Regions from separate parts of the Homo sapiens genome. Here region 1 is linked to region 2. Evidence: fine-mapped expression QTL. Tissue or cell type: whole blood. Region 2 holds a variant in brackets; the other region holds the start of a gene. All regions are shown on one strand. Distances are between the middles of the regions.

Evidence for each region. PIP is the estimated chance that this variant, and not a neighbour inherited with it, causes the effect.
Region 1: it holds the start of RPL32, and the variant in region 2 is fine-mapped to the expression of RPL32 in whole blood (TOPMed, PIP above 0.99).

Annotation. Positions count from the first base shown.
Region 1 is chr3:12,838,737-12,843,881 of GRCh38, forward strand. RPL32 (ribosomal protein L32) reads right to left here and starts at 2,829. Exons shown (of 4, transcript NM_000994.4): 1 at 2,758-2,829; 2 at 1,406-1,506; 3 at 613-794. The coding sequence starts at 1,501. It overlaps SNORA7A (small nucleolar RNA, H/ACA box 7A), which reads right to left and starts at 1,714; the gene lies at 1,576-1,714. RefSeq lists enhancers at 1,189-2,127, 2,128-3,064, 3,158-3,407.
Region 2 is chr3:12,816,421-12,821,565 of GRCh38, forward strand. It overlaps CAND2 (cullin associated and neddylation dissociated 2 (putative)), which reads left to right. Exons shown (of 15, transcript NM_001162499.2): 10 at 1-1,456; 11 at 3,666-3,761. Among named protein-coding and RNA genes, the nearest start is that of SNORA7A, 21 kb to the right of the region's middle. The variant T/C (reference allele first, on the strand shown) is at 2,869.

The sequences.
Region 1 (5,145 bases), 22 kb after region 2:
CATTCCTTTCTAGTGATAACCAATTCTCGACGAGAAACAGAAAATCTATCCAAAACCTCGAAGTGCCGCCTTTCTGGACCAAACCAATGTATGCCTTATGTGTATTTGATTGATGTCTCATGTCTCCCTAAAATATGTAAAACCAAGCTGCTCCCCGCCCACCTTGGACACATATTCTTAGGGTCTCCCAAGGGCTGTGTCACGGGCCATGGTCAACTCATATTTGGCTCAGAATAAATCTCTTCGAATATTTCAGAGTTCAACTCTTTTGCTTGACACCTTCATAAAGAAAGCAACATTTTGGAAACAACAGCCAAAGGATATTGTAGTAGTGGAAAGTGGCTATTATTGCAGTGTTCACAAAGCAGTCTTTTCCTGGTCTTGGGTCTCTACACTTAGAAGACCAAGTCACCTCCTTCAGCAAAGGAAACACCTTGAATTCCCCAACAAGCATTCTCTAAAATCCTGCAAGGAACAACTTCTGATTCCCTCAGAGAATGTACAACACCCCCCGCCAAAATGCATCCCAAGAGTTTGTAGAGTTCCTGCCAGAAGTGCTCACACAGATGCAAACTTCTGATCACTGAAAACTAGAGGTGGGACCCAACTCACTTGTTGCACATCAGCAGCACTTCCAGCTCCTTGACGTTGTGGACCAGGAACTTCCGGAAGCCACTGGGCAGCATGTGCTTTGTTTTTTTGTTGCTTCCATAACCAATGTTGGGCATCAAGATCTGGCCCTTGAATCTTCTACGAACCCTGTTGTCAATGCCTCTGGGTTTCCGCCAGTTACGCTGAAGGAAATAATACACAGGTGGGTTAGCGTCTGTGCAGAGTGCGAACTCTTCCTTTTGGGGAGGGAAAAAAAGGACCAAATGAAAAGGAAGTATGCCACACAGTAGTTGCCTTTGGTAACAGGACTTCACTATTTCCTTACTTTTTTGGTGGGAAAAACCAGGAGCTCGTGGCTTTAGCCACTAGGGATGAAGGCACCCCCACCATTGCCACTCCCAAGCAATGGAGGAGGCACCAATGGGATGCGAGGGGACTGTGTAGATACTGAGATGGCAAGCACAGCTGCAGACACTGCTCTCAGCACCTGAGTTTTCTTGTCTATAAAATAGGGATCCTGCTGTCACAAGGCAACCCAAAATACAGGACACAAATGCAAAGCCCTCTGAACACATCAAAACGGCCAAATGTCCCTTTTCATTAAAGTTTCGCTTCACACATCAAGAGACATAAGTACCAGCACTAGGGCACACTGGGGGAGACCTGTATTTCTACAGAAAGCTCTTCCACAAGCCAGTTCATCGGTCAAAGATAATCCTGACTAGGTGATGTCAGAAACTGTTGGAAACTCTTTTCTTCACCCCACACCCATTTCCATCCCAGGACCACATACCTTAATTTTGACATATCGGTCTGACTGGTGCCGGATGAACTTCTTGGTTCTCTTTTTGACGATCTTGGGCTTCACAAGGGGTCTGAGGGCGGCCATGATGCCTTTTGGGGAAGAAGCGGCCCCAGGTGAGGAAGAATCCTGGAAGGAGGCTTTCCTGCCCAGGGACTGAACACTGTCGCAGAGTGTCTTCCAATCGCCAGCTACGGAGCAAGCTGGGAATGGAATGGGTGCCTCTGCCAGGCTTGCTTTCCCTCCCTTTCCGAAGCTGGCAGAATACTAGGCACTCTCCAGATGCGATCCCAGGAGGTCAAGGGTCACCTCACCCACTCAGAGCCCAAAGAATGCCAACAGCTGAGCAAATCAAAACTGACCCCAAGACACTCTCAATTTGCAAGGGGCAGCAAATCCCACCCCACCAGTGTCCGAACCCCCAGATGGTCCTTCCGGTAGTACTGGCCTTGACCATCTACTTGAACCTGAGTCTTTTCCTCACCTGTAAAATGAAGATGACACTGCGCGCTGAATGCCTGCAGTGCCTGTCACAGGGTAAATGTTCAATAAAACCTTCTAATTCCCTAGGGAGCTGCTGCGCTACCACACCCTCAACACACACAAAACCACCATATACCTCTGAAGATGCCTCAAACCTGGAGATCTTCCAGTATCAACTCACACCTTCCTCAGTGTGGTCTTCCGAGCCATTGATTTCCTACAGCAGCACCCCTTCTGCTCTCTTCGCAGCCATCAACTGGCCCAGAGTGGGTACTCAATGAACCACGTATTCAAAACGACTCTGCCTTCTGGCCCATGATATCCTCGAAGGCAAGGTGGGGGCAGTTGCATCTTCATATTCCCAGAGATACTACCAGAATTTCTGCCTGCAGCTGGACCAGCCGACCTACAGCTCGTCTTTCCTTGGCGGTCCCGCAGCAGCAGCCCTCGGGCCAGAGACTGCAGCGGAAGAAGCCGGCCATGGCATGAACGAATACACGTGGGCCGACATTGGTGAGCGCTGGGATCCACAGATCCCAGCTGAAAGCTGTCAAGCTGGGCCACCCCTGGTCGTCCCACGGCCCCCAGGAGACCCCGAAGTCTGGCCTCAACTAGCACCCTCCACCGCCAAGGAACAAACAAGCAGCCCGCAGCTCTGAATACAGGCGGAGGGCAGGAGGCTCTGGGACGCAAAGCCCTATCAACTCGGCGGCTTCGTTCTGTTCCTGTACACGCTCCAGTAAGCTGACAATAACAATACCCACAGACACTACCGCGCTGAAGGGGAGGCCTCCGCACCACTGGGCGACGGGGCCAGATGAATCCCGCAGGAATGCGGATTGCCACGGATTAACACTTACCGAGAAGGAGATGGCTGCCACCTCCGTAGGCAGCGCCGAGGAAGAGAGAAGGGACGGTGGCGCGCAAGGGCTGATGGGTCGTAACCCCTGGGTCCTAGCAGGGAAAAAGGCAAGCACTTCCGGCTCCGGCTCTTTTAAATAAAATAAAGACACGTCAAAAAATAATGCCGCAAAAATTCTGAGTATACATGTTTTAATAGACAATAATAACTAGGAATAGGACTGAGAAATGTATTCTACCTATCCTTGGGACTACGTAGAAATTTGGAATTCTTTCTGAGCTAATAAGACCTGGTGGAGGGAGGAATTTACTTCCGCCAGAAGTCGAAGCCAATCCGCTTTTGGGCTATTTCCGCCCGCGTTTCTTCTACTCCGAAGTGCGCCTCTTAGTGGTCAGAAGAGAACAAGACAGAGACTTCCTAATAATTTCATCACCGAATTTAGACAGTAAATAGTAACGAAAACAGCTAACATGCGATGGAGTTCACTATGCCTACCACAATTCTATAACGTACCCCTATTATTGTCTCCATTTTGCATATGTGGAAGATGAAATTTGGAGACTTGACTCCAAACTCCACGCTTCTAACCACTGGGCGAAACTGCCTAGTTTTTCTTTGTTCATTTTTTAGAAATGGGGTCTCACTCTGTTGCCCAGGCTGGTCTTGAACTCCTGGGCTCAAACGATTCTCTCGCCTCAGCCTCCTGAGTAGCTGGGATTACGGGCACGAGCTACTGCCTAGATGTTTTTTGTTTTGTTTTGTTTTTTGGTTTTTGGTTTTTTTTAGACAGGGCCTCCCTCTGTCACCTAGGCTGGAATGCAAAGGTGCCATCTCACGGCTCACGGCAGCCCCTGCCTCCCAGACTGCCTAGTTTTTAAAGATGCTCTTGATTTGTTTTGCTTAGCTTTTGTATTTAAGATTATTGTGCAAATTGGCTGAGCACTATGGTTCACACCTATAATTCCAATACTTTGGGAGTCTGAGGTGGGAGATTTGCTTGAGCCCAGGAGTTCAAGACCGGCCTAGGCAACATAGTAAGACCCTGTCTCTACAAAAAATAAAATAATTAGCTGGGGCTGGTGGCGCATGCCTGTAGTCCCAGTTACTCGAGAGGCTGAGCTGGGATGATCACGTGAGCCCAGCAGTTCTAGACTGCAGTTAGCTGTGATAATGCCACTGCACTCCAGCCTGAGTGACAGAGCAAGACTCTGTCTCAACAACAACAAACCTATAAAGACAAATAACCCAATTGAAAAATGGGTAAAGAATCCAAATAGACATTTCTCTGTGGCCAATGAACACATGAAATGATCCACATCATTAGCCATCAGGGAAATACAAACTGGAACTGCAGTGAGATACCATTTCACACTCACTAGGACAGAGAAATGGGAATGTCCGTACAGTGCTAGTGCAAATATGAAATGGTGCAGTCACTTTGGAAAAGAATAGCATTTCCTCAAAATGTTAAACATAAAGTTACTGTAAGACCCAGCGACTGGGCGCGGTGGCTCATGCCTGTAATCCCAGCACTTTGGGAAGCTGAGGTGGGCAGATCACCTGTGGTCAGGAGTTCGAGTCCATCCTGGCCAACATGGTGAAACCCCATCTCTACTAAAGTTACAAAAAATTAGCTGGGTGTGGTGGCACATGCCTGTAGTTCCAGCTACTAGGGAGGCTGAGGCACGAGAATCACTTGAACTCAGGAGGTGGAGGTTGCAGTAAGTGGAGATCGCGCCATTGCACTCCAGCCTGGGCAACAAGAGCGAAACTTTGTCTCAAAATAATAATAATACATGAATTGGTGTCCCACAAAATGAAGATACTTTTTTTCTGATAAGAATATACACATAAGATTTATGTCAACTCAGTAATCATTCAGGAGGTTTTACTTCCTGAGATTTTTTTTAATGAAAACATTTTCTCAAGTTAGATTCCTAGGGTGTCTAAGTCAATGCCAAGAAAAGTTTGGAAAGACTTTGAGAGAAGGCCAGCCCAGCATCTTTCTTGTAAGCGGAGGTAGATTTGGTTTCACAGAGGCCTACTGGAAGTGATAAAAGGGAAGAATTCTTTAGGAATCACTTTAGTGTTTACTGTACATGCTAGGGACATAAATTTTTTTTAAAAAAAGGAATCACTGTGGTGTAAAATACTATTAAAATTTCTCTAAAAGTCTAGAGCTGGGCTGGATATGGTGGCTCACACCTGTAATCCCAGCACTCTGGGAGGCCAAGGCAGGAGGATTGCTTGAGGCCAGGCATTCAAGAGCAGCCTGGAAAACAAACCAAGACCTCATTTATATATTAAAAAAAAAATAGCTGGATTTGGTGGCACTCACTTTGCAGTCCCAGTTACTTGGGAGGCAAGGGCAGGAGGATTGCTTGAG
Region 2 (5,145 bases):
ATGGATGCCCTGGCCTTCTTGCAGGGGCTGCTGGGCACCGAACCAGCTGAGGCCTTCCACCCACACTTGCCTATCCTCCTGCCACCTGTGATGGCCTGTGTGGCTGACTCTTTCTACAAGATTGCAGCCGAGGCCCTGGTGGTGCTGCAGGAGCTGGTGCGGGCCCTGTGGCCGCTGCACAGGCCTCGGATGCTGGATCCTGAGCCATATGTTGGAGAGATGTCTGCTGTCACCCTGGCGCGACTTCGTGCCACTGACCTGGACCAGGAGGTGAAGGAGCGGGCCATTTCCTGCATGGGCCACCTTGTAGGCCACCTGGGTGACCGGCTTGGGGATGACCTGGAGCCCACGTTACTGCTCCTCCTGGACCGCCTGCGGAATGAGATCACCCGGCTGCCCGCCATCAAGGCGCTTACGCTGGTGGCCGTATCCCCACTACAGCTTGACCTACAGCCCATCCTGGCCGAGGCACTGCACATTCTGGCCTCATTCCTGCGGAAGAACCAGCGGGCTTTGCGACTGGCCACACTGGCAGCCCTGGACGCCCTGGCCCAGAGCCAGGGCCTCAGCCTCCCACCGTCTGCCGTGCAGGCCGTGCTGGCTGAGCTGCCTGCCCTGGTCAACGAGAGCGACATGCATGTGGCCCAGCTGGCTGTGGACTTCCTTGCCACAGTGACCCAGGCCCAGCCAGCCTCTTTGGTGGAGGTCAGTGGCCCTGTGCTCTCAGAGCTGCTGCGGCTGCTGCGTTCGCCCCTGTTGCCAGCCGGGGTTCTGGCAGCTGCTGAAGGCTTCCTGCAGGCCCTGGTAGGGACCCGTCCCCCGTGTGTGGACTATGCCAAACTCATCAGCCTGCTCACTGCGCCTGTTTATGAGCAGGCTGTGGATGGTGGGCCTGGCCTGCACAAGCAGGTGTTCCACTCATTGGCCCGGTGTGTGGCAGCCCTCTCAGCTGCCTGTCCCCAAGAGGCGGCAAGCACAGCCAGTCGCCTGGTCTGCGATGCCAGGTCGCCCCACTCCAGCACGGGGGTCAAGGTCCTGGCATTCTTGTCGCTGGCTGAGGTGGGTCAGGTGGCTGGGCCAGGCCACCAGCGGGAGCTGAAGGCGGTGCTCCTGGAAGCTTTGGGGTCACCCAGTGAGGATGTGAGGGCTGCAGCCTCGTATGCACTGGGCCGTGTGGGTGCTGGCAGCCTGCCCGACTTCCTGCCCTTCCTGCTGGAGCAGATCGAGGCTGAGCCCCGACGACAGTACCTGCTGCTGCACTCACTCAGGGAGGCCCTGGGGGCCGCCCAGCCTGACAGCCTGAAGCCCTACGCCGAGGACATCTGGGCCTTGCTGTTCCAGCGCTGCGAGGGTGCTGAGGAGGGCACCCGGGGGGTGGTGGCCGAGTGCATTGGGAAGCTGGTCCTTGTGAACCCTTCGTTCCTTCTGCCCCGCTTGCGGAAGCAGCTTGCTGCAGGTAGGCACACAGGTGTGGGCAAGGCAGCCCACCTCGGAGGTGGGCAGTTTGCCACTGAGCATCCAGGCAGCTGGGGCAGAGTGAGCTATTTCAAGTCACTGGATACAAGAATCACGGTATCTATACGACAGAGGCAAGGAAGCTACAGAGGAACACACAGTGATACCTGAGACTTAAAGCCTTCCTCCTATGGGACTGTGGGATAGAAGGGACAGAGTCCTTGATTGGTCCCTACAACAAATACATTTAAAAATCTCATGATGTTGGCTAGGCATGGTGGCACATGTCTGTAATCCCAGCACTTTGGGGAGGCTGAGGTGGGTGGATCACTTGAGCCTAGGAGTTTGAGACCAGCCTGGGCAACATGGTGAGACCCTGCCTCTACCAAAAAAAAAAACAAAACAAAAAACCTCATGATGCCAACTTCATAATCCTTGATGTGGACAGTAGCTTAGTGCTCCACACAGAGGTCAACAAAAACAGTTTTCCCAGTAGCCGTAGACTGCAGCCTGCAGAGGGTCAGCTCTTTCGGCTAGCCTGAGCCAAGAGCAGACGTCAGTATAGACGGGGACAGGCTGACATGCCCCCGAGGCTTGGAGAGGGCTGGGCAAGAACCAGGAGGGGCAGGCGTTTTGGCTTGTCGTGTTTTGGCACACCAGGTGTCTTAGCTTCAGGAGGTGGAAAGCAGACAGGTAGGGTCATCAGGCTCCTAGGAAAATGAGAGTTCCCAGAATGAAAGGCCAGTGGGCTTCGAGCTGGCCAGCTGGCCCCTTACAGAACCAGTGGATGCTCTGCTTGACAGAATGCAGGTACAGTGTTTGGTAACCTATGTGGTACCTACAGTAATTAATACTGAGTAAATCAAGAGCTGCTGTTGTTACTAGGTAGGTTAGTGATTTCAGTTAAGGCCTTCTTGGGTTGCTGGGTTCGTAAGAAGCAGTTGTCTGGCCTCAGGACTGGATGGAAGAACATTGTTGAGGACACTGTCTATTACATCACACAACCTTGAGAGACGAGAGTGTTAAGATGCAGAGGAGCCCTGCTTTGCCTAAACACCTATTTGTTTCTATCTCACGTGCACTGTTGAACCAGCCACCCGGTCACATTTCCTTTTTAGCACCAACTGCTGGGAAGCTTAGAGCCAGATGAGTGGTCTGCTTCTAGTAGGTTCCTGGGACTTCCTTATTGATGCTCTCTGTACATCTTCCTGCTAGTCTCCTTCTCACCTCCCTGCCTTCAGTCGTCCTTGGCCTTGTTCTTGTTTTCAGTTCACTTAATCTTACTCTCTTGTGCCTGTCTTCATCAGCCACCCTAAATCTTCCTGGGAGCCAGTCAGGCTGGCAAGGGAAAGAGGTAAAAGCTGAAAGTCTGAATTCAGTAACTCTTCCATTCATTCATGCCTTAGCACCAAA[T/C]GGTAAACTTTTCCTCGAGGCTGAACATAAAGCCTGTGGGGTGGAAACACCTTAGCCCATTCACTGCATTGTGCTGGGGTTGGGCAGGGAGCAAAGGGGGCGAGCCACTGAGGAGAGATTCAGACGCAGGTGGAGCGTCCACCCATTCGTTTCCTTCATTAAGGGAATGTACTTCCCCTCTTTACTGGGCTTCTCTACTCAGAAAGCAAGCGGCAAAGCACAAGTAAGCAAGCTCTCTGTGACCGAGCCTGGAGGTGATCCGAGTTCTGTTAGGCCTCCCTGACCACCAGCCAGAACGCAGCCCCAGGAAGAGGGGCCCAGCCAGGAATTCTGGATCTGCTGTGTGGCCCTAGACATGAACTTAAACCCTCTGAGTCTCTCTTTCCTCATATGTCAAAGAGATGATTTTTATTGGTGATTTTATTGGTTCTTTTAATACTACTTTATTATTAATAGGATCATTGTTAGGACTCATTGAGATAACATGTCTGAAAAATCCCAAGGCCTGAGGGAAGGTCTTTGTTGGAGCAGTTCCTGTCTTGGTTATTGGTTCCCTGTTTGCAGCCTGTGGTGTTACCTGAGCACTGGCAGTCCTACTGTTTCAGCTGCAGCAGGAAGAATTGAGGGGAGATTCAAGGCTGCCAAGGGAAATGGTAGAATCCACTTTCCCAGAGATGGGGAGGGGGTACAGTTCTGTTTTCCAGGGAAGCAGGGGGAGGAGCCTAAGCACCTTCTGATCTGTGAGCCTCCAGGATTGGCCCCTGCCCCTCACTAACTCACCTCTTCTTGTCCTGCAGGTCGGCCACACACCCGGAGCACCGTCATCACAGCGGTCAAGTTCCTTATCTCGGACCAGCCCCATCCCATTGACCCCCTCCTGAAGAGCTTCATCGGTGAGCACCTACCTCTTGCCCCTCCACCTTGTTCAGTGCCCCCACCCAGTCCTTGAGCTTGGGCTGATGTTTACTACCCAATAGCCAAGGGCAATGGGAGACCCGGGAGGTGTGCCCATGATGGGCAGCAGGGCCTGGCCCTCCAGTTAAAAGGCCTGGGTTCACATCCCTGCCTTCCTACTGCCACTCAATCATGGGTGGGTGTGGCATGCCCATCACACCTCTAAGCCTCGCTTTCCTCATCTGTCAAATGGGCGTGAGAAACTCTTATTATCTGCATTTTCTAGAGTTGTCCTGGAAGCCCATGGGCAACTGAGGGAGAAGATGCTTCATCAACATATAGACTCTTGGGAATGGAAAACCACCAGCCTCTCACATGCCTTAGCTTTTGCGGGCCCCAAAGTGGGGCAGGGAAGAGTGCTCCCCCCGGCCCCGCCTGTCCACTAGATCGCCCTCTGTCTGAGGGGCCTTCTGGCCTGAGGAGCCCAAGCAGCCTTCACTGGGAGGAGAGGAACTGAGACCTCCCTCTGGGGCTCGGCAGGACCACTGGGTTTTTCCTAGGAAGGCAGAGCCCTCGCCCCTTCAGAGCTTGGAGCCTGCAGCCCCTCACTGGGCCACACTGGAGTCTCAGCCCACATCTAGGCAGGGCAGCCCAGTAGAGAGAGGTTTTGGAGCTCACCTGCCTCAGGTTCAAATCCTGGCCCTGCTATTCCCTGGGTGTGTGAGTGTGGACAAGTCTTCTCATCCTCAGCTATAAAATGGGGGTGCTGGGCCAGGTGCGGTGGCTCTCGCCTGTAATCCCAGCACTTTGGGAGGCCAAGGCAGGTGGATCACCTGAGGTCAGGAGTTCAAGACCAGCCTGGCCAACACGGTGAAACCCTGTCTCTACTAAAAATACAAAAATGAGCCGGGTATGATGGCAGGCACCTGTAATCCCAGCTACTCTGGAGGCTGAGGCAGGAGAATCACTTGATCCCGGGAGGTGAAGGTTGCAGTGAGCGGAGATTGCACCACTGCACTCTAGCCTGGGCGACAGAGCAAGACTCCGTCTCAAAAAAAAAAAAAAAAATTAGTTGGGCATGGTGGTGGGCACCTGTAATCTCAGCTGTTTGAGAGACTGAGGCAAAAGAATTGCTTGAACCCGGGAGGCAGAGGTTGCAGTGAGCCAAGATCGTACCATTGCACTCTAATCTGGGCAACAAGAGCAAAACTCTGTCTCATAAATAAAAAAAAAGGAACGGTTGTGCTGATACTCATCTGCCAGGGGCCTGTTATGTGGGACCAAGGGGCCAGCAGACGTGACCGTGTTCTGCACTGGAGAACACGTGCAGAAGCTCTAGCAAGGTCATCGGCAGCAACTTTGTCCCTTGCCCTAATGCAGTGG